Linked DNA regions of Homo sapiens: region 2 is linked to region 1. The links come from fine-mapping of genetic effects on gene expression. Tissue or cell type: blood mononuclear cells. Region 1 holds a variant in brackets; the other region holds the start of a gene. All regions are shown on one strand. Distances are from middle to middle.

The links. PIP is the estimated chance that this variant, and not a neighbour inherited with it, causes the effect.
Region 2: it holds the start of GOLGA3, and the variant in region 1 is fine-mapped to the expression of GOLGA3 in blood mononuclear cells (TOPMed, PIP above 0.99).

What each region holds. Positions count from the first base shown.
Region 1 is chr12:132,772,248-132,774,891 of GRCh38, reverse strand. It overlaps GOLGA3 (golgin A3), which reads left to right. Exons shown (of 24, transcript NM_001389683.1): 23 at 572-735; 24 at 1,598-2,644. The coding sequence ends at 1,787. Among named protein-coding and RNA genes, the nearest start is that of ANKLE2, 12 kb to the right of the region's middle. The variant T/C (reference allele first, on the strand shown) is at 1,585.
Region 2 is chr12:132,827,327-132,830,005 of GRCh38, reverse strand. GOLGA3 (golgin A3) reads left to right here and starts at 1,137. Exons shown (of 24, transcript NM_001389683.1): 1 at 1,137-1,203. RefSeq lists silencers at 620-829, 1,200-1,259, 1,760-1,859 and an enhancer at 910-1,049.

The DNA of each region.
Region 1 (2,644 bases):
GATGAGCGGTGGTCTGTGACTCGGCAGTCCCTGCTGTGTGTGAAGGGCTGGGGCCCGGGAGCTGTGCCCAGGCGCCCGGCGGTTTTCTGTGCTCGGTCCACATCCATGTTTTCCAGGAGGCAGGTGGGAGGGCAGCGCTCGGATTGAGAGGCCGTTTAGCGTCGTGTGCTTATCTGTGGAAAAAGTTTGAAGTCCCAGAAAAGGGAGCCTAAGCTGGAAAACTTACTTAATTTCTTACGGAAATTCCACATCAAGGTCTTGAGTATCTGATGGGAGAAGCGTCTGGGAGAGCTGTAGTCTGTGGCTCGGCCCCGTCCTGCCGCAGACCCAGGACTTAGGTTGTCTCTGCTTTGCTCTGGTTTTGTGCCTTAGGAATAAAGGTGTTTCCTCAGCCAGCTATTCTGGAGCTCCGGGGACTGTCGTGCTGGGCTGCCACGGCGGCCAGGACGGTCCCCTTCCCAGAGGCCCCACGTCCACCAGTTGGGGAGGCCCGTTTGCCACAAGCTGTGCTAGTGAGACTGACCCGAGGGAGGGGACGGTGGGAAAGCTGATCATGTGCTTTTAAAAACAGAGAAAGGAGCCGAAAGGCGAGGCCAGCTCTTCCAACCCTGCCACGCCCATCAAGATCCCGGACTGCCCAGTTCCCGCCTCGCTGCTGGAGGAGCTGCTGAGACCACCGCCCGCCGTGAGCAAGGAGCCCCTCAAGAACCTGAACAGCTGCCTCCAGCAGCTCAAGTACGACCGTATTCCGTGCTGCACTTCAGCTAGTCTTAAAGATTAATGCCCTCTTACCTGGGAGGGCACTCCTGGTGCCAGTACTGAGTGCCCAGCAGAGTTTCAGCAGGTTTATATAAGGGTGGGGGACTCGCATACATAGCCTCTGAGGTTTATATAAGGGAGGGACTTGCACACACAGCCTTTGAGGTTTATATAAAGGGGGAAGGACTCAGCCTCTGAGGTTTATATAAAGGGGGAGGGGGACTCGCACAGCCTCTGTGGTTTATATAAAGGGGGAGGGACTCACAGCCTCTGCGGTTTATATAAAGGGGGAGGGGGACTCGCACAGCCTCTGAGGTTTATATAAAGGGGGAGGGGGACTCACACAGCCTCTGCGGTTTATATAAAGTGGGAGGGGGACTCGCACAGCCTCTGAGGTTTATATAAAGGTGGGGGAACTCGCACACACAGCCTGTGAACTCATAGGTGGAAACTGCCTGGAGTTAAACTACCCTGATAGGCCCTGAGAAGCTGGAAGGCCACACATGGTGCACCTGGCAGCCTGAGGCTGAGCGAAGTGTGTAGGGCGGAGCCAGGCGGCGCCCCGAGGGCAGGTAACGGAGTGGAAGTCGTGTGTGCCAGGCCTCAGTGACAGCTTCCACCCTGCCGCCTGGTCAGGACTGGTCCTTGAGCCTGTGTCCTCTGCACAGTGTAGAGAACGGTGCTGAGAACAGCTGAGCTTCTGTGGTCTCAGTTGGTTTGCGGATCCCCGAAGGCGCCCCGGTCCACTCAGGTGCTAGCGAGTGACGCTGTCCACAGGTGGCGCGTTCTGCCTGGCACTTGTGTGATCTGGGCCTTCTTCCTCCT[T/C]CTTCTGTCCCAGGCAGGAGATGGACAGCCTGCAGCGCCAGATGGAGGAGCACGCCCTGACGGTGCACGAGTCTCTGTCCTCGTGGACGCCGCTGGAGCCAGCCACTGCCAGCCCTGTGCCCCCGGGGGGTCACGCCGGCCCACGCGGCGACCCACAGAGACACAGTCAGAGCAGGGCTTCCAAAGAAGGGCCGGGAGAGTGACTGCTGTGGACTCGCCTCCGTGCGCCGCTGCCCCAGAAGGCTCTTATCAATGTTATTTATTTGATTGTGTGGTCGATGTTTTTCTAAGACATGAAATTTAAGTTTTGTTTTGCCTTTAACAAGAAGTAAAATATATAGCAGAATGAGAGCCAAGGACTAGAAAAACATTCGAAGATCACAATTAGCTTTTCACATGGAATGACCAACTCTTAAAAGCCTGATAGGCTCTCGGCGAGGAGCTTTGAACGTGTCTGAAGGGTTACTTGTAGGTCGTGGCTTCTGAGCGGCCACCGATGCTGCTCTCTGCGGGTGACAGGGAGAGGCTGCGTAACTGGGAGCAGCTGTGTGACAGGGTCTGCGGCACCGCGCCTGGCCAGGCCGGCTGCAGTTTCTCACTTCCCTGTTCCATTCAGTAAGAGCTTTACTTTTCCGCAGAAATGAAATTTTATCTGTACCTTTGGCTTTTTACTTGTTTTTTTGGATAGCCATCCCACCATAGGATGTGTACATAGATACTGAATATCATAATCCAATCTTTGTTTTTTTTTTTTTTTTTTTTTTGAGACAGAGTCTCGCTTTGTTGCCCAGGCTGGAGTGCAGTGGCACACTCTCCGCTCACTGCAAGCTCCGCCTCCCAGGTTCATGCGATTCTCCTGCCTCAGCCTCTCGAGTAGCTGGGATTACAGGCGTGCGCCACTATGCCAGGCTAATGTTTGTATTTTTAGTAGCAATGGGGTTTCACCATGTTGGCCAGGATGGTCTCGATCTCCTGACCTCAAGTGATCTGCCCATCTCAGCCTCCCAAAGTGCTGGGATTACAGGCGTGAGCCCCTGCGCCCGGCCTGTCACCCAGTCTT
Region 2 (2,679 bases), 55 kb before region 1:
AATTGTGTTTTTTTGGTCAGATCTAAGAACTCTTCCCCAAGCTCTAGATGTGAGAAATTCTGTTTTCTTCTAAAAGTTGTATATTTTACGCCTCAGTCTGATCATTTTGTGTTAGAATTTGCATTTGCAGATAACATGATGGCCCATGTAAAAAATACAAGGATTTTACAACAACAACCGCAAAACACCAAATGAACCCTCAAACTAATGAGTTCAGCGAGGTCTCAGGATAAGAAAATCAACATAGAATTCATCACATTTGTGTAGACCAACAGTGAACACGTGGAAAACGTCAAAAACGCAGTGTTACAGTTGTTTGATGTGAAATACTATAAACTTAAAAGGTGCAGAATCTGTATGCTGAAATTACAAAATGCTGGTGGAAGAAATCAAAAGACCGAAATAAATGGAGGGGCCACCAGGGACGCAGATGAAGGACCGAGTCAGCGATGCCCGTGCTCCCCAAACGATCTGCAGCAGTTCCCATCAAAATCCCAGAAAACTTCGTAGACTGAAGCGTATTCCAAAATCCGCAGAGATGAGCGCAACATCACAGAGGACCCCGAGGCGCCCTCCAGGCCATTTCCTTCCTGACAGCTGGAAGAGCGGCCTGGCGGATGAGGGAAGGTGGAAAGCCGTTCCCCAGCGGCCAGCGGCCCGCGCCGTCCAGCTTTGCCCTTTTTAAAGGGGAAGCAAATAGGGTCCAAAGCAGCGTCGCCTTTGATCTGGCACCTGAAGCGCGAAGGGCGCCGGCCGGGTGGAGGTGCGGGGTTGGGGCGGGGACCCGACTAGGGCGGGCGGGGAAGTCACGCCCACACCGAGCTCGGCCGCGCCCATGCCGAGCCCCGGCCACGCCACTTCCGCCGGAAGCTCGGTTCAGCTTCCTGAAAGAGTTGGTCCTGCAGTTCCGGAAGTTGCGTTTCTACTAGGGAAAGGTCCGCAAACTCTTAAGGTCACTTTCTGAAGGCGGCCTCATCACAGTCGGAGGTGAGCTCGATCCGGACCCTGTGGGCAGAGGGTCCCCGGCCCTAGGGTGGCCACTTGAAGAAGAGGAGGACGTTCTCTGTTCCGGAACGAAAGTAGCGCGTGCAGGCTGTTTCCGGGGACCCGAGGCCGATGCACCGCTCGCCCCGCCCCTCTCACGGCCACGTCTCCGCCGGAGCATCCGGGCCGGGCGGCCTCCGGGGCTGCCAGAGCAGCAGGGTGAGGGGCTCGGAGGCCGCGGCGCCTCGGGGCTCGGGCTCCCGCTCCCGCTCCCGCTCCCGCAGTGCATGGGCGGGGGAGGCTCGAGGGGCGGCGGCGGGGCCTGGGCGCGTCCCTGCAGCGTGGCGGGACGGCCCCGTTCCAGTCACCCCCGCCTCGCTGCGGTGGCCTCGGGCCTGGGCGCCCGCCTTCAGCTGCGGCGGAGCTGGCTCTGTAAATGCCGGTGCCCGCGAGCCCTCCTGAATGCTTGTCTGCGCCCGACGAGCGCGGCCTGTCCCGAAGCTGTCCACTGCCACCACTCGGGCAGTGCTTGCTTTAGCCTGGCCCTTTGCAGCTGAAAGGCGTGACATGGTGTCGGGTGGTTCGTGGGAAGTCGGGGTTTCAGGAGTCCGTGTACTTCCTTGTTTGTCTTTGTCGCTGGCCGACTTGTCTTCATTCCAGGTGGCCAGAGCGAGTGGGGCCGGGCGTTGTCACGGGTATGAACCCGACGAATGTCAGTCGTGTGGCGGGTCCTGGGTATTGTGGGTCTGGGTCACTGCCCCCGCGGAGCCCACCTAGGACAGGGACACCCAGGGTCGCCAGCGAGAGGGTACCGGGCGGTGGTTGGGTGGGGTCCGCTACTCTAAGTGGGAGCCTGGGGGGCGGGCGACTTCCGTGCTAAGGCCTCTATGACGAGAAGCAAGCCAGGCAAAATTGTGAGAAAAGCGCGCCTCAGGCAGAAAGTTTGAAGACCCTGAGGGCGGAGGATGTGGCCACAGTGTAATGGCAAAGGGGGAAAGCGATGGCGGTAAGGATGTTGGTGTAGGCAGGTGCTGGATTCTTAAGAGGTTGGAGTTTATTGTCACTGGGCCAGTGTAAGCCATTTACAGATGACTCATGGATTTTTTTTTTTTTTTTAAGAGACTGGGTGTGTTGCTGTATTGCCCAGGCTGGTGTGGAACTCCTGGCCTCAAGCGATCCTCCCACCCCAGCCTCCCAAAGTGCTGGTGTTACAGGTGTGAGCAGCCACACCCGTCGTCGTGGATTATTTTGAACTGTCTTTTAAACGACATCAACATAGCGCTTTATAACCCTTTAATATCTTTTCAGGCAGTATACCTTAAATGGCAAGAAGGAAATAAATCATCTGACATCACTCAGATTGAAGAGGAGCTTTTTTTCCCCCGATTGCCTTAAGAAGTAGCATACTTTCCCAAGTGAGAATGCCTTCAGTTGGCTTTTAGCGATTTTGACAAGCAACAACTAAAGGGAAAATCGTGATAATTACTGTCATTTTATTGAGGACACGGGACAGACTCTGTGCCTTGTTATATTTAATCCTGGCAAAATTTTGCGTTCATTTTCTCATTGTTTTACTGGTGAGGAAACAGGCTAAATGTGATTAAGAAATCTTTAGCCCAGGCTCTCACAGGTAAGTGGTGGAGGGTCGGGAGCTGAGGCCGGAGTCCTGACTTCCAAGCCTGCCCTTCACGTCTC